Homo sapiens: one gene and its partners. The protein of the gene in region 4 purifies or fractionates together with the protein of the main gene of each other region. This does not show direct contact. Each region holds a gene or a part of one and is shown on either strand. Other genes may lie near its edges.

Evidence for each region.
Region 1: the proteins of OTC (region 4) and ATPAF1 purify together in Homo sapiens (affinity purification with mass spectrometry; one large-scale study listed by BioGRID and IntAct). This does not show direct contact.
Region 2: the proteins of OTC (region 4) and GLS purify together in Homo sapiens (affinity purification with mass spectrometry; one large-scale study listed by BioGRID and IntAct). This does not show direct contact.
Region 3: the proteins of OTC (region 4) and CPS1 purify together in Homo sapiens (affinity purification with mass spectrometry; one large-scale study listed by BioGRID and IntAct). This does not show direct contact.

Annotation. Positions count from the first base shown.
Region 1 is NC_000001.11:46,659,906-46,666,328, forward strand, and holds part of ATPAF1 (ATP synthase mitochondrial F1 complex assembly factor 1), read right to left. Parts: intron 5,974-6,423; exon of another isoform or gene 5,744-5,973; coding exon of another isoform or gene 5,742-5,743; intron 5,460-5,741; coding exon 5,351-5,459; intron 4,019-5,350; exon of another isoform or gene 3,928-4,018; intron 1-3,927. UniProt on the Homo sapiens protein: Has a complex stabilizing activity in the assembly of the mitochondrial F1-F0 complex.
Region 2 is NC_000002.12:190,958,970-190,964,508, reverse strand, and holds part of GLS (glutaminase kidney isoform, mitochondrial isoform 1 precursor), read right to left. Parts: intron 1,680-5,539; coding exon 1,523-1,679; coding exon of another isoform or gene 1,483-1,522; 3' UTR 1-1,482. UniProt on the Homo sapiens protein: Catalyzes the first reaction in the primary pathway for the renal catabolism of glutamine. Plays a role in maintaining acid-base homeostasis. Regulates the levels of the neurotransmitter glutamate, the main excitatory neurotransmitter in the brain.
Region 3 is NC_000002.12:210,670,356-210,676,778, reverse strand, and holds part of CPS1 (carbamoyl-phosphate synthase [ammonia], mitochondrial isoform b precursor), read right to left. Parts: intron 1,878-6,423; coding exon 1,818-1,877; intron 1,052-1,817; coding exon 939-1,051; intron 1-938. UniProt on the Homo sapiens protein: Involved in the urea cycle of ureotelic animals where the enzyme plays an important role in removing excess ammonia from the cell.
Region 4 is NC_000023.11:38,406,459-38,412,881, reverse strand, and holds part of OTC (ornithine transcarbamylase, mitochondrial precursor), read right to left. Parts: intron 4,141-6,423; coding exon 4,087-4,140; intron 4,007-4,086; coding exon 3,857-4,006; intron 1,090-3,856; coding exon of another isoform or gene 1,021-1,089; coding exon 883-1,020; intron 1-882. UniProt on the Homo sapiens protein: Catalyzes the second step of the urea cycle, the condensation of carbamoyl phosphate with L-ornithine to form L-citrulline. The urea cycle ensures the detoxification of ammonia by converting it to urea for excretion.

The DNA of each region.
Region 1 (6,423 bases), on a different chromosome or scaffold from region 4:
GACAACATCCCAGTGTAGCCGTTCCTTCATATGTAAACCATCTAAAAAGGAGTTAATTTCATTTTCTTTCTTTCTTTTTTTTTTTTTTTGAGACAGGGTCTAGCTCTGTTGCCTAGGCTGGAGTGCAGTGGCACAATGTCGGCTCACTGCAACCTCTGCCTCCCAGGTTCAAGTGATTCTCCCACCTCAGTCTCCCGAGTAGCTGGGTCTACAGGCTTGTGCCACCATGCCTGGCTAATTTTTTGTATTTTTAGTAGAGATGGGGTTTCACCATGTTGGCCAGGCTGGTCTTGACTTCTGGCCTCAAGTGATCTGCCCGCTTCGGCCTCCCAAAGTGTTGGGATTACAGGCATGAGCCACTGTGCCTGATGAGAATTTCATTTTCATACCACTCATTCTCAGGTGTACCATGAAAACGAAACAAAAACAAAACAAAACCTCCACTTGCACAGCTGCTTTCACCTTTCAGTCATGAAGCCTCATGTATCGGTTTTTACACAATGTCTCTCCAATCTATTATTTGTATCCATTTTCACTTATAGAAATAAAAAATTTAAGCCCTAAGTATAAGCGTATTGCATTTTATCAAATCTAAGACATCATATCTTAAGATGCACCATTATTTTATGCATCAGAAAATGATGCCAATTAAATAGCACAATATTTTCCTGTCATATCAATTATAAGACAATTTTAGTGATGTTAAAATGAGAAAAATAAGAGTGAGCTTTAGATTTGATGAAATAAGGTAATTAAAGCAGTTGAAACTACATGTCAAAAATCAGAAGCATTTAATAAGAACTTTAAATGGGTATTTTACTTCCCTACTATGGATGCTTTGGAAATCTGTGCAGATAATTTTATGGTTATCATAATAGTTTATTGGATATTGATATCTACATTATGGGAGGGGTGTCAAATGGGTGAGTTCTACATAATAAAAAAAATTTCCCTCATCCTGTACAACTTTTCAATGTCTAGCTAGACATTCTTGCAGCTGAAAATACCTATAATATTTCAATATTTATAATTACTTGGGCCTAGAACCTTTTTTTTTTAAACACTGCTTTAATACTAAAATTTCCAGAAATGCAACTACTATATAACTTGAAAGATTCCACATTGTGGAATCATAGGTCACTGATAACAACACTGCTCATGGTTTTGGAGGTTTTTTTTTTTTTGGAGACAGAGTCTCACTCTGTCGCCCACGCTGGAGTGCAGTGGCACAATCTCCGCTCACTGCAACCTCCGCCTCCCGGGTTCAAGCAATTCTCCTGCCTCAGCCTCCTGAGTAGCTGGGATTACAGGCATGCGCCACCATGCCTGGCTAATTTTTCTTTTGCATTTTAGTAGAGACGGGGTTTCACCGTGTTGCCCAGGCTGGTCTCGAACTCCTGACCTCAAGTGATCTGCCACCTTGGCCTCCCAAAGTACTAGGATTACATGTGTGAGCCACTGCACCCGGTGGTTTTAGAGTTTTTATAATTATCAACATAACACCCATTTGCCAGTCAGTATTTGCTGCTTACATGTTCAAGGTTATTTCAGAAATGGGTGGAAGCACCTCATGACTACATTAGGTCTCACAGTGTAGTCGTGCCCTAATATTTACATGCTAAAATATGTATTTTGTTAAAAAATACTTTTCTTTATATTATGGTTAGGGCATTATATTGATTTTCCCACCTGAGGTTATACATACAGGTAGGTTATATTTTTACATACCTATTGTTTTATTTCAGGGTAGAAAAGGGAGAATTTTTAAAAAATGTATTATAAAAGGGGGATGTTGAGTCCCATGTGGTGGGGAACCAATAACTCAAAGTAGTAAAGACAAGACTGTGGGAATGGAAAATATGTGTTAGCCGTTAGCCTTCCTCTATCTAGCTAGATACAGAAGATAGCAAGTGAATATTTACCTAAGAGCTGCCACAATTTAAATTAAATCTTTACATATTCTACATTTTATCATAAAGCTAAATTTCTTTCTTTTTTTTTTTTTTTAAGATGGAGTCTCACTCTGTCGTCCAGGCTGGAGTGCAGTGGTGTGATCTCCGCTCACTGCAGGCTCCGCCTCCTGGCTCCACGCCATTCTCCTGCCTCAGCCTCCCGAGTAGCTGGGACTACAGGCGCCTGCCACAACGCCCGGCTAATTTTTTGTATTTTTAGTAGAGAAGGGGTTTCACCGTGTTAGCCAGGATGGTCTCAATCTCCTGACCTCGTGATCTGCCCGCCTTGGCCTCCCAAAGTGCTGGCATTACAGGCGTGAGCCACCACGCCCGGCCTCATAAAGCCAAATTTCTAAGTCTGTTTACCAAAAAGGGGCAAAGAACATTCCTATCTAATATTTAAAGTTTATAATATAGTAATATTTCCAAGAGCTATTGACTTGTAACCTTACTACTATAAGTGTTTATTATAGGAAATGACAATTGTTAAAATATTTGTAGTAAAGAATTGTTTGCTCACATAAAGTTGTAAACTCTATTTGTCATAGGAGTTGAATTTGCTCCCCAACCTTATTATAATTAACCCATCTGTTATTTTTTTTTTTTTTGCCCAGGCTGGAATGCAGTGCCATGACCTCAGCTCACTGTAACCTCCGCCTCCCAGGTTCAAGCGATTCTCCTGCCTCAGCCTCCCAAGTAGCTGGGATTACAGGCGCCTGCTACCACACCCAGCTAAGTTTTGTATTTTTAGTAGATACAGGGTTTCACCCTGTTGGCCAGGCTGGTCTCAAACTCCTGACCTTAAGTGATCTGCCCACCTCAACCTCCCAAAGTGCTGGGATTATAGGCGTGAGCCACTGCGCCTGGCAACCCATTTACTATTAATCCTGTTCTAATTAACTCAATTAGTCATTTTATTTTATTTTTTTCTATTTTTATTATACTTTAAGTTTTAGGGTACATGTACACAACGTGCAGGTTTGTTACATATCTATACATGTACCATGTTGGTGTGCTGCACCCATTAACTCGTCATTTAACATTAGGTATATCTCCTAATGCTATCCCTCCCCACTCCCCCGACCCCACAACAGGCCCCAGTGTGTGATGTTCCCCTTCCTGTGTCCATGTGTTCTCATTGTTCGATTCCCACCCATGAGTGAGAACATGCAGTGTTTGGTTTTTTGTCCTTGCGATAGTTTGCTGAGAACGATGGTTTCCAGCTTCATCCATGTCCCTACAAAGGACATGAACTCATCATTTTTTATGGCTGCATAGTATTCCATGGTGTATATGTGCCACATTTTCTTGATTCAGTCTATCATTGTTGGACATTTGGGTTGGTTCCAAGTCTTTGCTATTGTGAATAGTGCCGCAATAAACATACATGTGCATGTGTCTTTATAGCAGCATGATTTGTAATCCTTTGGGTATATACCCAGTAATGGGATGGCTGGGTCAAATGGTATTTCTAGTTCTAGATCCCTAAGGAATCGCCACACTGACTTCCACAATGTTTGAACTAGTTTACAGTCCCACCAACAGTGTAAAAGTGTTCCTATTTCTCCACATCCTCTCCAGCACCTGTTGTTTCCTGACTTTTTAATGATTGCCATTCTAACTGGTGTGAGATGGTATCTCATTGTGGTTTTGATTTGCATTTCTCCAATGGCCAGTGATGATGAGCATTTTTTCATGTGTCTTTTGGCTGCATAAATGTCTTCTTTTGAGAAGTGTCTGTTCGTATCCTTTGTCCACTTTTTGATGGGGTTTTTTTTTTCTTGTAAATTTGTTTGAGTTCACTGTAGATTCTGGATATTAGCCCTTTGTCAGATGAGTAGTAGTCATTAAGACTCAGCAGATTCACTTAAAATTCAGGATACCCAAGGCAAAAAAAGTATTTTCCAAGTAAAATAAACACCTCTAATTTGACTTTAAAACACAATGTAGAATCCCAATTTTCTACTGTAACTACCTTAATTCAGGCTTCTGCAGCCCACACCTGGATTACTCCATATTCTCCCTGGCGCTGGCCTCTCCTACACCAGTTTGTTCTGTGCACCATCCTAGGTTAGAATTTTTCAAATAATAGGTTGTGAAATACATTTAGTGGATTGTGATCAGAGTTTTTTAAAAGATGAAAGAGAATAAAAAGTAATAAGAATGGACTGCATGTTGTAAAAGTTAGCATTATTTTATACATTTTTTTTTCAGTTACAATCATATACCTACATGTGTACTGAATTGCAATGTAAAATATATTTCTTATTGTGGTCATGGTCAAAAAGTTTGAAAAACACTGCATTAGAATAATCTTCCCAGACACAGTTTTCAACATGCTTTTCCTCAGCTTTGATTCCTATTTAAGGATAATAATGGCTAATATATATTAAGTACTTATGCCAGAGACGGCGCTAAAGAGTTTTAAATGGTATTATCTCTTCAGCACAACTCTGTGAAGTAGGTACTGTTATTATTCCTGTTTTACAGATAAGCAAACTGAGGCATGGAGAAGTAACAATTTGCTCAGAGTCACCCAGCTAGTAAGTGGAAGGGTTAGGATTCAGTCCTTGGCATCTGGCCCCAGAGCCCATCCTCTTAGCAGCTAAATTATCCTGCCTGTACTCCTTAAGCCCAAAGAGTTTAATGCCTAACTTATTTCTTTAGCCTTAACACTTCCCTCTCCATTTTAACTGGGCATAGTACCTTGCTGTCTCCTGAAACCCCTTTTACTTTCAAAGCTCTTCCTCTGTTTAAGCTAATTCCTCAACATGGGAATGGATGGGGGTGGGTTGGCAGGGTTGGCTGGTTGTCAGGAAACTAAATCTAGTCTGCCAAATATTTTTGTAGATTAAGTTTTACTGGGACAGAACCATACCTATTCATTTACGTACGGTCTAGGCCTGCTTTTGCACTATGATGGCAGAGCTGAGTAGTCACAAAGAAGACCATACGGCCCACAATGCCTAAAATATTTAACATCTAGTTCTTTACAGAAAAAATTTGATGACCCCTGCTCTACATCAAAGTCCCATTCCTTCCTCTCTACTTAATTTAAATCCCCCACAACGTTCCTAGCCTAGGTCAGGTTCCATCTCCCATGGGAAATTTTCTCTGATACCTCTAGCCTACTACCATGTGTGCCTTGCCTTGACCACCAGACTGCTCCTCTTGGGAGCAGGAAGTACCCCTCTCATACTTCTATATCTCCACCATGACCACAGTACTTTGCCTAGAAAGAGCAGGATAAACATTTATGGATGGAAATGGAGTTGGGAGAGACTATGTTCAGTTCACCCAGCTGACCCATCAATAAACCAACTTTAAGGATAAGGGTGAGGGTAAGGAGGGTGAAGGAGTGCTGGTAAGCAAACACCACAAATGGGGGAAGGTCTTACCTTCTGTTCCACACATTTGATAAAATCACCTTGCCTGGAATGCCCCACTGGCTGCTTCCGAAATTCACTGCGTTTCTCCAGGCGGGACTCAAAAGCAGCTGGGTCTGACCTGATCAGAGGTAAACCAAAGGGTAAACCAACTGGGCCTTTTTGAATTCTAAAATAACAAAGCATCACTTTCCACCTCTACAGAGAAAGGACACTGCCATTCAGAGAGGTTGAAAAATTTGCCTTCAGTTAGTAAGAACTGGGCACAGGCCTAGAAATAAAGAAACTGGAAAAAGAAATCCTGTTATTCAACTGTTGTTAATCCTCAAGGGGCCTGTGTAACATTTTTCTTTTGCAGGCTGTTCCCTAGGTTTACACAGGGCTTAGTCTCTCAGGTACTTACATTCAGGGTACTTAGAATTTTGAGGTCATCTTGCTGGATCACCTCTTCAGACAAGAATCCTATAGCCTCCTTACTAGGTGTCAAGCTTTTACTTGAATACATCCAGTTCTTGAAAATATGTCCCCCCAACCAGGTTAAACATCTGCTTTATTCAGATCCTGGTGATTCAGAGGCTTTAGGTAGCCTATTTTGCAGAAGATTTAGCATCTGAGTATCTCCCTAACCTACCCTCCAAAGAAGCTGCTCTTGGAGATGAAACAACAGAACACATTGTTTATGTCAAAATGGGGTTGGTCTTCAGGTTTGAAGTCCAGGCTGGGGTGCTGTCCCTATTAAGAATTCTTCAGACTGTGTAGCTAACCATGGGATATTTGGTTTTGTACACTTTGGTGAAGATATCATCCAGGGATTCCAGCTCTTTGGCCATGAGACCCAGAGTTTCATGGGTGAGGTCTGGAGGACCCAGGGACATCTTGGCTATCCCTCTGGTGGACTTTCCTGGTCAATGCATTATAGGGGGCCCCTTCTTCCATAAAATTCCTTTCTGGAGGTGACATAAAACACCACTCCCTTCACTGTCATGTAGATGGGATGTTTTTCTTCTCTCTGTAGTGGGCCGGCTCCTCCTCAATAAAGAGCCTCACCAGGGGTTTCTGCTTAGTCGGGCATGGCACCTGCCTGG
Region 2 (5,539 bases), on a different chromosome or scaffold from region 4:
GGAGGCTGCTGGAGTAAGGTGCCATCAGGCATGTAAAGTTTAGAAGCAGCAGAGTGTGCTCATAGAAAAAGAAAAAAAAAGGAATTTGCTGTATGTGATAACAACTAACATTCATGTACTTGAGCTCATTTCACTAAACACAGCTTCAGAGAAGTCCATTTGTGTGCATGTGTGTGTGTGCTTAATATCAGAACTCCTCACTAACATGCCACTTTATCTCGAGGTATGACAGGATAAAATGTATGTGTAACTCCTAGAAAATCCTGTTCTATCCGTTTTTTGAAGCCCCTTTTACCCACTTTCCAAATGAATCCTGAATTACCAACCCAAGACAAAGAATTATAGGTCACAATTTAAAATGAAATGGCCTTTTTCTTATTATTAAACTACAGAGCCCACCAAGAATTACACAATAGAAAAATCACAAGAAATCTGGAATGATCCAGTGGTCCCCCAAGGAGGACAAATCTCTTGATGCAGACTCTTAATGACAGGCTTGGAAACAAATGTTTGTTAGTTGTAGCAGTTCCCATACTTTCAGAATAACTTTGGTAGCTTAGAGCATTTCTGAATTTATCTTTACCCTAGAAGCTAAAAAAAAAAAACTTCTTAAAGAGCTGCAGTTGCACATCCCTTCGTTTTTTAGACTGATAAACTTGACTAATTTATACTTAGTAATTTTGTCTCTGGTTCGTCTTCTGTAGACAAATGGCAAAGTTCTGATGCCAGAAATAGGAGGCATTTTCTGACTTACTATGGAAAACATAAAAACTGCATAGTATGCCAGCTCTCACTTTCCCAGCTAAAGGAAAGAGGCAGATAGCTAAATGTCTGAGAAGAGAGGCTGGACTAAGGGGATATAGAAAAAGGAAAATTTTTCAAAAGCATTATAACTACATTCACACATACGTTTTGGTCACCAAACATATCTTAAACAGATTCCCTGATAAAGTCTAATCAGAATTGGTCTATCTTACTAACAGTTGTTAACTATTATAGTTTTTTAAGAGTCACATCATGAAGCTAGGGGGTGAGAGAGACATTTTAAACACACAACCGTAAGTGCATATAGTTGTTCAAACACTTAAACTAAATTTGTATTTGAAGTCTTGAAAATCACACTATTTGCTTCTAAAGGCAACCTTGACCCATTTGGACAGACTGTACAACAGAGCTTACTTTATAAATGCATATCAGCAGATCATCACCATAAATTGAAAATTCACAAAACACAAATAAATCATGGAAGACCACACAAGCTAGCATTGGTAACTATTTCTTTTACATCAAATTATACAATGCACGAGGTAATATTGCTCACATTATGGAGGGAGATTGTTTTATTTCTATTTTTTCCCAAAGAGATCAGATTTGTCCTGTGTGCACAATGAAGAAAACTCCAGTAACACTGAAATGACAAATGTAAAATATACATCACTACCAGATAGAAATACACATGTTCTTCATAATCATTTTCCACAATTAAATAGGTAAGTGATTTAAATCTTGGGATTTGAGACCATTACAACAATCCATCAAGATTCTTATGGACGGTTTGATTTTCCTTCCCGTTGTCAGAATCTCCTTGAGGTGTGTACTGGACTTGGTATTCTTGGAGAATTTTAAATACATCATGGTGTCCAAAGTGCAGTGCTTCATCCATGGGAGTGTTATTCCACCTAAACACGTAGCACAGCATGGACAGGGTCATTAGGTAATTTATGTACAAAGATGATCACCCCACATTCCTAGATTTTAAATGCAGGTTAAATGGCCAAATTTAGCTATTTTAGCAATTTTACAAATAAAAATTAATAATAGAAATGCAGAAAGGGATTTATAATTCAAAAAGTAGTCTCCAAGACAAGTTGGGATATGGAGAGGAAGAGAAAAAGATCTGTGAAAGGATCTTGTTTACACATCCAAGTGCTTATGGAGGGAGCTTTTTAAGGAAAGTCCTTGTGGTGACAGATATAATAGACTGCTCTAGGGTTCCAGAATTTTAGTTTCATGAAAAGCCCAAAGTATCTCTTTTAAAATAAAATGTTCAAAGAAAATTCAGGCATATAACATCCATCACTCTAGCCTTTGACAGAAAATTAGTGTTTGTGTCAATTCAAAGCCACAGTAAGTCTCAGAAGTCTAGAAATAACCATGACCTCATTAGGGCTAAAACACACTGGAGGAGCAAGATTGGCCCCAAAGGAATTGACATTTTTATCACCTCTGGTAAGGCTGGGAAGCCATGGACTCAATCGGACCACTACACCAGAAGAGTAACTCCCCTTTCCATACTAATAACTCCCCTTTCCATGCTTCTGGGGCTGTGCTGTTTAGAGTGATGTAGATGAATATTCAAGGATAAGAAGAAATGAAGAGTTGCCAGAAGTGGTTAATCACTTGCCAGAAGTGGTAAGTCTTTTGCAAGAGGAGACAGAACTACATAACTCACAGCCCTAGTCAATGACAGGGTACGATGGGTAGTTCCCTTACACTTTACAAACTGTGAAGCCTGTCTTCCTACCCAATCTCTCTCTCTACTTACATTACAAAATTCTCCATGGCTGATGATCTCTCTTTCTTCATCCATGTGCCACTGGCACCACCTTCCTAGTTTCACTTCTTCCTGTTTCCTTCTTTCCTTTCCATCTCTGTCCTGAACTTTTTACCCGCTTAGTGGAGTCACAATATGGAAACGAAAGGTTTTTAAAACAGTCTCATTTTTTAATATATTTGGATAAATTTTGGTAGCCTGTTTTTAAAATCAGGTAAGTAAAACTTTACATGTATCTTTGTATTTATCAAAAAAAAAAAAAAAACAGCTGAATTAAGTGACTTTGAATAGGCCTTCATTAGTTTAGGAAGTCAGTGGCTTGAAACAGACTTTTGAGTCATCCTCTACAGTATGTAATTATCTGTCTTTCTGGAAAAATGGAATGTCAACTGCGTGTTACCTTTTTTACAATTCTTCTGTGAATTAATGAAAAATATGAACTTTAAAGAATACACTAATTTCAGCCAGATACAGTGATGCCTGTAATCCTATCACTTTGGGAGGCCAAGGTGGGTGCACCACTTGAGGCCAGGAGTTCAAGACCAGAATGACCAACATGGCGAAACCCCTCTCTACTAAAAATACAAAAATTAGCTGGGCGTGGTGGAACACACCTGTAATCCCAGCTACTCAGGTGGCTGAGGCAGGAGAATTGCCTGAACCTGGGAGGCAGAGGTTGCAGTGAACGAGATCACGCCACTGCACTCCAGCCTGGGCAACAGAGCAAGACTCTATCTCAAGAATTCACGAATTCTGTGCAAACCTATTATAATTTAAGGTGACACTGATTCTATGAAATAGAGAAAAAGACTTGTTGAATGCCTAGTTATCAAGTTAGTTACTTAGCTCACTTTTTCTTATCAGGTGGGTACATCTACTTTCACATTCCTAGAGGCCAATTTAGGGCAAAAAAAATTAATACATATACAAAGCACAGTAATATTTCCAACATGTATTACATAGTGTTTTAGTTGGGATTATAAACACAGGAGGAAAATGCTCTTCAATTTTTTGCTTTAGAAACCTGGGGTGGGTATTAAAATTTGGGGAAAGGGAAGAAGACTGTCAACCTAACATGAGGTTTTAGAATACTGCCAATAAAGGAGTTTTTAATCATAGTGCTTTTTTACAACTATAGGAATAAAGTTAGATAACCAAAGTGTTAGCAAACTTACAAAATTGCTAACATTTGTCAGACACTGACATAACTTTTCTGCATTTCTTGCAAGCTAACAGCTGAACCAACAAAACCCAAGCCCTAATTTTAAAAAAGATAGTTGGCCAGGCTCAATGGCTCACACCTGTAATCCCAACACTTTGGGAGGCTGAGATGGGAGGACCGCTTGAGCCCAGGAGTTGGAGACCAGCTTGGGCAACATAGTAAGATTCTGCCTCTACAAAAAATAAAAAATAAATAAATAAATTAGCCAGGCATGGTGGTGTTTGCCTGTGATTGCAGCTACTCAGGAGGTTGAGGTGGGAGGATCGCTTGAGCCTGGGAAGTTAAGGCTGCAGTGAACTATGATCATGCCACTTGCACTTCAGCCTGAGTGGCAAGGCAAGACCCAGTCTCAAAAAAAAAAAAAAAAAAAAAATTGAAGCTTAATAAACAGAAACACAATACAGCTAAAGAGTAATCAACTTGCTCCAAACTTAATACAGCTCCCAGTTCTCAAATGAATCCAAACTCCTAATACATATCAAACCACCATCAAGTATGCGTTTTTTTCCCATTCTAAACTTTTATTCTCATTACTCATTGACTCATATACTCTACTCCAGTACATAATGTCCAAGGATATGAATCTAGAGTTTACTGTACATGTATATGTGTAAGCTGCATTCTTATCCCTTCCCTGACCACTTTGTTGACATCATTTGTTGCAGGATGAATAGCAGTTTGCTATGTCGACCAGGAGAGAGAGGAGAGGAGCAGAATATATTCTAGGCATATTTTTCCCACTATAGATAGAATGCCCTTCTTTTCATTCTGTGCCTTCAGTCTCGTCTCTTCCCTAAAGCACTGATTAAAATTTAACTTCATGAAGCCTTCTGAAACTGATTCCAACCAAATGCAGAAATTTCAACAAACTCCAATATATTCATTTTAGAGTTAACAGTTTTCTTATACATTTTAGCTTGTTTAGAAGCCTTCCCATTTTGTATGTCTCAATATTGTGAGCAAGTTTGTATGCTGATAAAATTCACATTATTATTAAAAACAACATCAGGCTGCATAAATGTCGAATCCCTGCCAGCAATCACTGTCCTCACCAATCACTGGCTTCTTTGCAAATCCTAAGAGAGAACATTCAGTGTTAATTATCATCTTAAAGTTTATGCTTCTCTAAAGGTTTGTCTTGTCTACCCTGGGTTGTTAAAAACTCCACGAGGGGTAACCAGCAACTGCAAAAACATACAAAATTGTAAAGACCATTGACACTATGAAGAAACTGCATCAACTGAAGGACAAAATAACCAGCTAGCATCATAATGACAGGATCAAATTCACACATAACAATATTAACCTTAAATGTAAATGGGCTAAAAGCCCCAATTAAAAGACACAGAATGGCAAATTGGATAGAGTCAAGACCCATTGGTCTGCTGTATTCAGGAGATCCATCTCACGTGCAAAGACACACATAGGCTCAAAATAAAAGGATAGGGGAATATTTACCAAGCAAATGGAAAGCAAAAAAAAAAAAAAAGCAGGGGTTGCAATGCTAGTCTCTGATAAAACAGACTTTAAACCGACAAAGATCAAAAGAGAAAAGGGCATTACATAATGGTAAAGGGATCAATGCAACAAGAAGAGCTAACTATCCTAAATATATATGCACCCAATACAGGAGCACCCAGATTCATAAAGCAAGTTCTTAGAGACCTACAAAGAGACTCAGACTCCCACACAATAATAGTGGGAGACTTTAACACCCCACTGTCAATATTAGACAGATCAACGAGACAGAAAATTAACAAGGA
Region 3 (6,423 bases), on a different chromosome or scaffold from region 4:
TTCTCTTTAAAATGCTATCTGTTCACTCATTAAGAATTGGTAATTTGATAGATACTTATTTTTTAAAAAGAGGTGATCCCTCCACCATTGAATGCCCTTTCACCCCCATGTTCCCACTCCCACATTAACTCTATTGCCTCCTTAGTAGTGCTAATTATTGTTTTACAATGCCCCAAACACGGAGCTATTACATCCTTGGAGGCCTGCTAAGGTTTGAACACAATGCCATTATTTTATTAAAGTGATAATAATTTATGTGTTGGTTTCTCAAGAACGCTAACAAATAACATATTGCATAGAATGGCACAGCCATTCTGTAGGCTGCACTATCTTAAAACAGCAGAGAATTATCTCCTATGTACTTATGCCACATAGATCTTTAAGGGTTGATGCAATGGTATTCCTGAAGATTCACACAATCTGCTGAAATAAAATGTCGTACAAAATCTAATGATGACATGGTCTAAGGCATGAAAACCTGGTCAAGGAATGACCAATTAGGTAATCCAATGGATGACATCATCATAGTACTCAACATAGGTTCCTGTATGTAGTAAGTGCTCAACAAATTGATTTATTATGCACAACCTTAGTGAAATATAGCTGGTCATCTTATACTCGATGTACTTATCTATACACAATATAAGTTTGACATGAAATATAAAGTGCTGCATTACATTCTTCATGCTCTCACTTGTTTCCGTCAAGGAAAGTATCCTTACTAAGAAGTATTTTGAAACACGTTTCATATCACCATGTACACATGACGTTATGTATTCCATAGTGATGGAGAGTGAAACTTGACAATCATCCACAAATGTATTCATTTTTAAATTTGTTTTAAAAGACTTGCAATCAAGTAAGGTGAAATATTCATATACTGGTTCTCAAAGTTAATCCTCTAAATTATTTCAGAAAACAGTATGCCTAGTTCTTACTTTCTGATGGAAGAGAGGCTGGGATTCTGTCCTTCTTGAGACGGCCATGCCACTGGGGTGGCAGGGACATTGTTGGCGTTGAGCCAGTCTGATGTGGCTTCCGTGGCAAACAGCTGCATTTAAAATGAAAAAATCAATTACCGTATCACAGTGATTTCTTATTTTTATGGAACATGTAATTTAAAACATAAAGAAGAAGAAATTGCTGAACATGAGAAGTAGTATAGTGCCATGGATAGAGACTTGGACTCACAGTCCAGAGGCATGGGCACTTTAAACATTTTTTATATATTTGCAGTGATTTAAAAAACTTAAGAACCTCAATTTTATTTGCATTTCCATTTTAATAATTATATGTTTAATTTGAATTTAATAATTCAATGACAATTTCTCATAAATTTAATAATTTCTCAATTATTCATGGCTAATTCCTTGTTAGCAGGTCAAAAAATCCCCATGGCCACAGGCCCATCATAAGCCTTGGGAATAATTTTGTTTTACTCAACCAGGCTTTGTGTGGAGGTATTCACTGCAAAGAAGTTTTGCCTGTAACTGTCACAGCTAGAATCTATAACCTCATATGAAAACAAAAAAAGGAAAAACATATGGAAATGTGTTGGGACTTTGTCTCAATTGTGCTTAAGCTAAACTTTCTCAGTTTTTAGCTGGCAACTTCTATTGAATTTGTGGTAATTTTGTTAAAAGTTAATACCAGTCTTTTTAATGATTTGACTCTAAGTTTTGAAACTACCAAGTTAGTTAAACCTTTCATATCAAAAGGACATATTTTGGGCTATTTCTTTTCCAATATTCTGCAATATTTTGATTTGTGGACAGATTCCATGCTGACAGAAAACAACTTAAAACTAATGAACATACCTTGAAACCTTCATTGTGTAATTGTTCAGCCACACCAAGGAATCTTGGCCGGAATGATTGCTGAAAAGGAATTTCACAAAATTCACTTTCTAGATATACATGCTCTTCATTTATGCAATATGGTATTTCCTTACAACATCTTAAAAGACAATGTTACATGTTGCCGGATGCTTTATATTAAAAAATGACAAGTTTTATCCTTTTATCCTTCTATGGTGAGTGTGAGTTTTAGCTATATCCCAATGTCAATGAAATTCCATCCACATAATCTTGATCCCTGCTTTTCACCTTGTTCTTATCTCCTTTTATTCTCTATTTAATCTACTTGGTCTTTGTAAGTTCAGATCCACTTCGGTTCTACAAGGATCCTTTTCCTGGTCAGGGAGGACTTAAAAGATATGCGGGTTAGGAGCCAGTACCGAGTCAGGCTAGCTGTTTTGCCTATTCAACCTGCTCTTATTTCTTTTTTTTTTTTTTGGTTTTTTTTTTTGAGATGGGGTTTTTTGCTCTTGTTGCCCAGGCTGGAGTGCAATGGCACGATCTTGGCTCACTGCAATGCCTTCTGGGTTCAAGCGATTCTCCTGCCTCAGCCTCCCGAGTAGCTGGGATTACAGGCATCCACCACCATGCCCAGCTAATTTTGTATTTTTAGTAGAGACAGGGTTTCTCCATGTTGGTCAGGCTGGTCTCAAACTCCCGACCTCAGGTGATCCACCCACCTCGGCCTCCCAAAGTGCTGGGATTACAGGCATGAGCCACTGCACCCAGGCTCAACTTGCTCTTATTTCTAAGTTCTAATTTTGTACTGCTCTTCAATAACTAGGCCATTTTCCTAGTAGCTTATGCACTAGTCCCTGCAATAACTCAATCTTTGGAACTCTTTTTTCATTTACTCTGAGGCAATAAAAAGTTGTAGCTAAAGAATGAGCTCTAAAGTCAGTTAGCTGCATTTCAAATCCTGGCTTTCACCATTCACTAGTGGTATGAGCTTCAAAAAGTTAATGTCTTTGCCTTCATTTCTTCACTCAAAAACAGTGATGACAATAGTAGTATTTCAACTTTTTTTTTTGAGGCTCCACACCTTATTAAACTGTGTTACCTTGAATATCTTACTTAACAACTCTAAGATGCAGTTTCCTCATCTGTTGAACAGGAATAGTAACAGTTCTTACATTAGTATGAGTGTTCAATAAACTAATTTAGAAGTAAGCACTACTTAAGTGTTACTACTATAATTTAGCACAGTTACTTGCCTATTAATAGTTCTTAATAAATATTATTATAATTACAATAATTGTTTTTTCAGCCCCCCTAAAAACTAGATTCCTGCCCTTACATCCTAGTTTCCAAGCATGGGTTCCTCTACCCACGATTACACTTACAACCCAAACTGACTGCCCCCTCATTTATACGCATTTCATTTCCACACAGGCTTCCCTAATGCTCCATCTCACTGTTCAGATATTTTCCTGTAGTCCATTGCTGTGTCTTTCCTAGGACCCCAGGTGGACCTGTCTAGTGTCCAGCCCCTACCTTCCCTGGATTCCTGACCATTGCCATCAGGAGTTCCCTATTTCTGAACATACTTCCTGTGATCAAGAGCTAGTGTTTGCAAGATAGTGGTCAGAATGAAAGAAAACAACACTAGGTGACCTACCCAAAGATCAAACCCTGACCTTGACTTCATTAACATGAGTGTCTGAGTAACTGAGCTGGCGTATTTAAAATCACACACTGTTAAAAACATATCCATTCTTCTTTAAATAGGAACATTCTTGTTGGTTTCCCTTGTAAAAAGGTTTTAAACAGATGACATGAGCTAGTTACTTCAGCAAATGTCTTGTAACCTGTTTATAAACCATATTAGTGATGGCTGGAAAAAATCAAATGATCTTATTTCAGAGTCAGAAACTAGGAACTGTGACAATAAAACACATGTGATCCTTGCACAATTTTGATAATGTTTAGCCCATAACACCCCCTAATATTTACTTGCAGAGTATTTCTGAGCACAGATCTAAATCCTAAGAAAAGACCCCAAAGACTATGTTCAAATATAAAATTCTTTCAGATTCTGGCCCCCTCAATCCCAGAACTGCAGTTTTATAAGAGGAAACTATTGGTAAATAGAATAGATAAATGTAACTGGATGAATTTCAGCTGAGGCAGGCTCAGTGGTTATTCATGACTGCCTTATAGAACATGAATTTTAACCATGCCCAGGAAAGTAGCTTTTCATTTCCACTTAGGACCAAACAGAAAGAAATGAGCTTAGATGCAAGAAGCTCATGGTTAGACGTAAAAGAAAAAAACAAGTAAAAAATTAGAGAATAACTCTTAGTGACATCAGGACAATTGGTTAGACAGAAGAATAAGACAATTCAAGTTTCATTCTCCTCAGAAAAGGCAAAGGGCTAAATTTGATGGCATATAAATTTTTTTTCATGTTTTAAGATTCCTTGGTATATAACAAATATATATGAAATGTCCAAAATGAACTTCCAAATGTTGTTAAATACCCCTAATATGGAACATTACATTGTGACCCTCTGCTAAACACAGAATAGACTTCAGTAAGTACCAAATCACATTAGAAGGCTCAGCATAATGATCTCCAACACTTGCTAATTGATACATTAATCATGCACTCAACTTTCCTCAATCTTTTATACTTTCCCCTAGCAAAAATTCCCTGATAATATGTTTGACAATAATAAGTGCTAACATAACTTTTAACCAGGTTTCTAAAGTACCATCGCTCAAGTAGAGTGGTTCTCAAACTGTGGTCCCTGGCAGAGCAGCATCAGCATTACCTGGGAATTTATTAAAAATATGAAAATTTGAACCCCACCCCAGATCTATTGAATCAGGAACTCTGGGAGTGGATCCTAGCAATTTGTTGTTTTACAAACCCTCCAGGTGATTTTGATGCATACTTAAGCTTGAGAAAGGGGGGAATAGGGGATAGGAAGACTATCGTTCACTCATTGTGTAATATGAAGTCAAGATTGCATTAACCTTGGCTAAAATCACCACGAAAAACATTAAGGGAGGAGTACTAGAATGTAATTTTTTTCTTTGCCATTTTAAAGTAAAATAAGTCAGCAAGTCCTCTAAGACCTGCAGACACCAGGCAGAACCTCATTATGGAGCTGTTTCAGTGTTGTCCCCCAGGTGGAAAAGATAAATATCCAACATGACAGTATCGACAGTTCCCAGCCAGGAAACCACTCTACCTTCTGGTCTGGGTGTTGGCTTCCATAGGCACATTATAAACTTCTATCAAACATGTATTGAACACTTGTGACACATAAAACAGCCTCTCTACAAAAAGAAATTACAGCTGTCAGCTTGCATCTGAGTAGCCTCAGATTTAAAAGCTGATTGAAAATACCTGTGTAAGAAACCATTTGTTACGAAAGGTGAAAAGTACAAGCTGATTTATTTTCTTGGAAATGTTTATAAAGAAGACAGTCCTTTAAAAGTGAAAAATATATATATTTCCTCCAATGATCATTTTCACATTTATCCAACTCCTGGCTACAGAAAAGAAAGCCAAGTTAATACTATGTGATGCCTGTGGATTCTACGGGGACCTCTGGATTGACAACTCTATGGTTGTTCCTAATGATTCCATATTAAAGATAAAAGGTTATTCATGTCACTTGGAGTTGTCTTTTCAAATAAAATGCTTGCTTTGTGTTTCTGAGCGATGCTGAAGCGCAGATGTCAGATTGGTACTTGCCACTCCACAAGCATCACTGAATAGCCCAATCAGAGAGGAAAACACAGTGAGTGCTCTTGATCTACTCTAGAGTAAATCATTTAATGTTAAAGGGTCTTCCAGAAAACTTCAAAACAAGGCAGATTGCCTACTCACAGCAACTAAAAATAAATCCTAATGCGATGAAAGGTGGCTAGAAATATTACAGGAAAATCAAAGATGATTTTTGTTGCCATATAAACCTGTGTTATGCCTTTCTTATGTTAGAAATGCCTTGGTAGAGACACAGGGAATGTAATAGATTGAGAAGAATCCTTTGACAAAATCTACATCTTGATTCTTTTATCCTAAGTCCTAGTTATAAGATTGATGTTATGAATATTTCAAACTTCCCAGATACTTTGACCTATTGGATTTAACTTTGGAAGACCAGAAACAGAGAGTCTGTATGTGTAAAGGAGTAGGGTGGGAAAGAGAGAAGAAATTTAAAAGTTAGAAAGACTGCCATATAACAAGTTCTCTTGGAACTTCATAATAACTCACCTTCAACTAGATGCCTTCCATTGGATTTACTATCCCTAACCCCCATTTATATATTAGCAGTCTTTTTTGTGCTATTTTTCAGTTCTAACTTAATATATCCAAAAGTGTTTATATGAGTTCTTCTGACCAAGTAGGATCACGTTAAATAAAATGTTTTTTAAAAGTACAATGTATCCTAAAATATGGAACCCTAATTACTTTATCTGCAATTGCTATGAAGCTGTGGTAAAAAGTTGAGATTAGATTTGGCCCCATACTAACTAAGAAGTAGTCAAGTAAGTTTTATAGCTATTAACTCTCCATTTAGTATATTCTGTCACGCTTTTTCAGTTTATCAGA
Region 4 (6,423 bases):
TGGGCAATTTTTCTGCCTGTGTTGTCCCTGGCTATATGGTGTCCAAGAATTATTCACTGCACTTCCTTTCCCAAAAGATTCTGGGAGCCGCTTAATGTCTCTTAATACATTACTTTCCATTTATCTACCTAGAGTGGACTCCCGTTTGCAAGTAAGATCCTGGCTGATACAGTAATTGAGACCAGTTAAGTCACTAAAAGCTAAAAAAATGGTGGAGCTAAGTTAGACATGTCAGTACTATTTTCCAGAGCAGGTGACATTTGGGATATTGTAAAGTAGACATATGGTTAATATTTCCTAGAATGACAGTGATGAAGATGAAACTAGTGGCTTTATCTGAAAGGAACCATTAATTTTTAAGATAAGTTTTGCCATGAAATTTGGAAATGTTCTATACCTAAAAACACATATATCCCTATGGCCAAACTCAAAGAACGAAAACAAGTATCTAGTCCAGTCATAAAGTAAGGCATGGAATGAGGAAAAAGAGAAGGGAAAAAGTAAGATGTTTTGAATGCCCATTTTATACAGGAACTGAATTAGGGGCTTCTCTAAACATGAACAAAGAGATTCTAAAATAAGAATTATATGACTTATAATGGTTGGCAAACTGGTGGCTGGTGCTCAGGCGGATCAAGGGTGGTAAGAATTTTGGTTAAAATGGATTTATTTGAAAGGAGATTAATCTCACTCCATGCAAATACACTATAAATGCTAATAAGCACTAATGATGTATTATAAAGTTTCTGGAAAAAAATAGATGTTACATGAGCAAGTAATGTAGTTGGATAATCTCACTTGCTTATTATTTCCCCAAAGGCATGAATGACCAAGTTGGAACCACACAAAGAACTTATCCTCCATTCCTTGTTTCTTGCTTACCATGATTGTCCACTTTCTGTTTTCTGCCTCTGGGAACACTAGTGATCGAGGAGAATAAAAGACTTCATCATCCACTTCTTCTGGCTTTCTGGGCAAGCAGTGTAAAAATGTCCAGTCAGAGGCAGCAACTTTAGCAGTCTAAAGAGATGGGGATAAGACCACTTTTTGACTATTATATGTGGCAGTCATATTTGTTTTCTTCAGTATCTAAAAACACACATGGCCAGTAGTCAGACATCAATGCAAAGGGAGAGACAAAGGAGCAGAGTGATGGTTTTATCTCAAGACACCTAGGAGAAATGTACATGGTACTTTCAAATTTTTTTTTTTTTTTGAGACAGAGTCTCGCTCTGTCACCCAGGCTGGAGTGCAGTGGCAAAATCTCGGCTGACTGCAACCTCCGCCTCCAGAGCTCAAGCAATTCTCCTGCCTCAGCTTCCTGAGTAGCTGGGACTACAGGCATGTGCCACCATGCCCAGTGAATTTTTGTATTTTTAGTAGAGACGGGATTTCACCATATTGGCCAGGCTGGTTTTAAACTCCTGACCTCAAATGATCCGCCCGCCTCGCCTCTCAAAGTGCTGGGATTACAGGCATGAGCCACCGTGTCTGGCAAGTCTTTTTTTTTTTTTTTTCTTTTTAAATTTAAGAGAGTACCACTTCAAGTTACACCAGTAACTCAGTTTTCTGTTATTCTATTTAGTGGAACAGTAGACCTTTCAGTAAAGAACTCTACTAATGTAATATGTGGCTGATAGCAAAAGTCACCAATTATAGTCCACTATATTTAAAAAGTTGCTTTGGTGTGATAATATTATATTTGGAGCTGATCTCCAAATTATTATTTTTAGCACTTGAAGCATACTCCATCACTAGTTAAAACAATTTAGATAAAGGTAATGAGGTAGGGGTGAATTAAACAGGATTATAAGCACTATGCATTAGATTTTTCATTCTTAATGCAAATGTACTAGCAGTTTTAATTTTCTCCAACAGTTAATTGCTGAAAGTTACATTTCCCTATATATTTCTATTGTTCACATACAGATTCAAAACTACATTCCTTCATACTTTCTTACCTCAAAATTACTGCCTTTGTACTACAATTTTGTTTTACCTCCCACCCAAGCTCTAGGTTCAGGACATTTTGAGTTTCTAAAATACCAGCAAAATTACATGGAAAAAAGTAACATTTATAAATGCCATACATCAACAAAATGACTGTTCTTCAATCCTACAGTTCCAGCACCAGCAACACATATAAGATTGGCCAAGCAAGTGTAAGTATGAAGCAATTTATATAATTTAAAATATCTCCATGAAAATATATTCCACATGATAAGGGATTAGCCATAATATATAAAGAGCTCCTATAACCAATAATAGAAAAGGCAAAAAAATAGAAAATGGGCAAAAAATGTAATAGCAATTTATAGAAAAAAGGGCAATGCCCAATAAACATAAAAAGATGCTTAACTTCATTAGTAATCAAGGAATTGCAAATTTTAACAAAGATGAGGTGCCATTTTTCCTCCAGATTTAGAAAAATTAAAAATGTAAATAAAAGCTAAACATGGAGAGGATATGGAAAAATAACTATAATATACAGCTGCAGCAGTATACATTTTTAATCTTCTTTGGGTAAGCAATTTAGCAGCACTCTCATATTTTAAAAAATTTATACCACTTCACCCCAAAATTCCTCTCCTCAGGATCTTATTCTCCAGTAATATTTGCACAAAGAAATATGGATAAGCAAGTTCATTGCAGCATTTTTGTAATCGGCATTCTCAGAAATAGCCTAATTTATCAATAGGAAACATTTTAAGTAAATTATGGTTCCACTTATCCTTTGGAATTCTATGCAGCAACTAAAAAGAATAAAAAATATCTAAATGAGTGAGCAAGAAAATCTAAGATTTGTTAAGTGGAAAAAGTAAGAATAATAATAAATAAATAAGTAATGTCTAAAATATCATTTACAAAAAAATCAATAGTTATGTGTGTATTGAGGCATACATATGTAAATGCACAGAAAAGGTCTGCAAAGAGACACATCAAATTATTAAACAGAGGCTACCTCTAGGAATAGTCTCTGTTAAAGAGATGGGAGAAAGACATTTTTACTTTTTATTTTTCAAACTTCTGTTCTATTTTATATATAACAATAAAGAACTTGTATTTATGTATTACTTTATCAATATAATATTAATTGTACTTGCTTAATCCCTTTCTCCACCAAAGTAGATTTGTTGCTTTGCTGACAAAACCCCTGTGCATTTGGCTTTCAGGGTATTCCTCCAGAACATTGCTTCTCAAAGTGTGGCCCTGGAGGCAGCAGCACTGCATCACCTGGGAACTTGGTAGAAATGCAGATTCTCAGGTTTCACCCTGACCTACTGAATCAGAAACCCTGGGGGTGGGACCCAGCCAGCTGTGTATTAACAACTCCTCTGGTGATGCTAATACCTGCTCAAGACTGAGAAGCATTGTTCCAGATCTTACTGGAAGACAGCCAAACAGATGAGTCCCCTGGGAATGCCCTGGAGGGCATTAGCAAAACTAAACTGGATTTAGAGGTCCTTGGAAAATAGAGGCAAGGACTAGCCTGAGGAGCATAGTTAAGGGGCTTTTCTTAGGGGAGAAATCATAAGAAACTGCATGCATCAGAAGTAACCTAATTTCTCTAAACACACAAAGAGTAAAACACTGCAATGCCTCGATTCTTGTGAGAGGGAAAAGCCTGCTCCTCTCTTCTCAGTGGGTTTCAAATTCCTTCATCCAGCACAAAAATGCCTTTCCAAAGGACACAGCTAATCTTTGGAAGGAGAGAAGTCCCTAGGGGATACAGTCAGTGAGTCCTTTTATAGGGAATGAAAGGACAGTCTGCTCCCCCTAAAGTGAATAAGTGATTAGATGGTTCTGGCCTTCATGAATGGAATTAATGAACCTTCAGAGAGGCATCAATTTGTACCTTCATTGTAACCTGGTAACCTTGGAAAGCCTGGAGCCGCTTTTTCTTCTCCTCTTCTTGTCCCATGCTTATCCAAGTGTCTGTAATTAATACATTGCCTCCATGCGCTGCTTCCAATGGATCATTTGTCAGCAACAGCTTGGTACCATTCTAGCATACATAAACACGCTGGTTAAATAACTTCATGGGACAGTAAAAGGCAATAATAGCTTTACATGTAAAGAGCATACCTCTTTGGCATACTGCTCTGCCAACTTGGTTACACTAGCATCCGGCTCATAACCCTAAAGGAGGAAGAATTTAAATCTTATTTAGGTAATTTTATTATACATGTTTTCTTAAATATATATTATTTTCTTTTCAATATCGCGTCTCCTTCCCTTTTTCAAGATGTGGTCCCACCATGTTCAGTAGAATATGATTTTTACATCTAGAATTCCAAAACTCAATAGTGCCTTTTGGAATTTAAAGAGACAACCAATTGCCCCAGCTTTCACTATCTCCGACTTCTTTAATCATAAAGGCAAACATAAGGCATGGTGCTTTCTAACTCTTGGAAGCACCTCTTCCGGTTTCCATAATGGCTTAAGAGGATTATATTCAGAAGTGTGCAAATGAATGCATGTTTGTCTATCTTTGCACATGCTATCCTTTCTTGTCTGAAATTCTTTCTTCCACCCATTCCATGTGGATAACTTTTTCAGGTCTCAGTTGAAATGTCCCCTCCTCAGAAAAACCTTCCCTGACCATCCCAGCTAAATACTAACAGCTCCCCCTCCCCCATTACACACCTCTCATTCTTTTGCATTCCCCAGCAAGCCTTTTGAGGGCAGGGTGCTTGTTTTGAAAGGCATTGACAGAACAAATACATTGTTTTTGCTAAGATTATATATTTGTCCGGGATGGTTTGGTGAGGGCAGAGTCAGACTCTGGAGAGGCAAGCGAGGTGCCTAGGGCAAAACATTTAAGGAGGCGCTAGAAAAAATGTAAAGAAACACACATTCTCAGGGTCATGCATGCACAAATTCTGCACCCTAGGTGCCTCGCTTGCTCAGCCTAGTTCCTACTCTGGGTGAGGAGACATCATGGGAACAGCTAAAGCTCCCCAAGGTATCCCAGATTCCCACAGGCAGCCTCCCTGCCTCTACCCTCACTCTCCAACCTATTCTGTACACAGCAGCAAGAACTGTTTTCTCTGAAGCCTCTGATGTTTACTACTTGTTTCTTAAGTCAAAGCTGATTAAGAGCATCAAGGCTCCCCACCTCCATCCTCTGCTTCTGTCTCTTTTAATTCTTCTCAACATCTTGCTGCAGGAAAGCCAATCTTATTGTCATCCCTGTACACATCTTGCCCTTTTCTGCCATCACAGCCTTTCACCCTTGAACACCTCCTCTCTTGTCCCCTCCTGGGCTTCTTCATCACAATGTGTCAGCTCCTCAAAACTCTAGCCCAGCCTCACCTCCAAGACCCTCCATATGGAAGTCTTGTCAGTTCAAACACTGTAATTATCCTCACCTTCCTCTATCCTTCTCATTTTCCCAAGTTCTTAGCATTGATTATGAGTTGATTTTTATCACTTTTCACTGAAGCATTGTGGTGAACGCTGTGGTATGCTCCCGAGATCCCCCTCCAGGAATAATCATGAATAAAGGACTTATTCCCCCAGCTGCTGGGAGTGCTGCCAGAAGACGGCTTTCAGCTGTCAGCCCCCTTTGGGCACTGCCTCTGCTGCAGAGAGCAGCCGCACCCAAGGTCACACACCCTTTTGGGGCAACCCACATTCAATGGCTGATTGACAGGAGGGTATGAAAACCTGACCCTCCTCTGCCCAACTCCAGACAGATGAATGGACATCTCAGATCCAGAACTTTCCATAAGATCAGCCAAGGCTGTTGTTGGGTCTGCATCGCAACTCAGCTTCTCCCTCTTACTCCTGCTTCCTTCCCTTCCTTTCCACAGTTGTTGATTTCAAGGGCACATGCTAATAAGCATCCTGCCTGTCCTGCACACTAAACTCTGAGTCTGCTTCCCAAGAAACCCAACCTGTGACAGGCATGTCTAGGTTTATTTGTGAAATTGTGTTTATTTGCACATGATTGTCTACCATAGTTTCTTCTTCTATTAAAGCATTCTTGAAAGAAGAAACTACTCAGATGTTGATGAAGATGCCTGCAGACATTTTAGCAGCTTTACCACCCTCATATAGCCATGAATTCTGGAGCCTTGTTTATAGAGATTTGGGGAAAGTAATTAATAAAGGCTAGCTAATTTAGCAACTAATGTTGTGAACAGCCATACTGGTAAACATAAATGAAGAGACTTGGATATTCCCCCAGGTGCCTCCTACCCTGAAAATTTAGCCTTCCCTTTGGAGAGTAGGTTTTATACTCCCTAAGTACAATAATTCTTAGAAAAGGAATCAATAAGTACTTAGAGAACCAACAGAGAGGTCTGGAAATTAGAAAATCACCCAACCTTGCATGCACTGAGGCATGACTTAGAATACAGAGAGGAATTCTTTACTCACATCTCAGCTTTCAATACTAAATCACTCACTAGCCTTTAC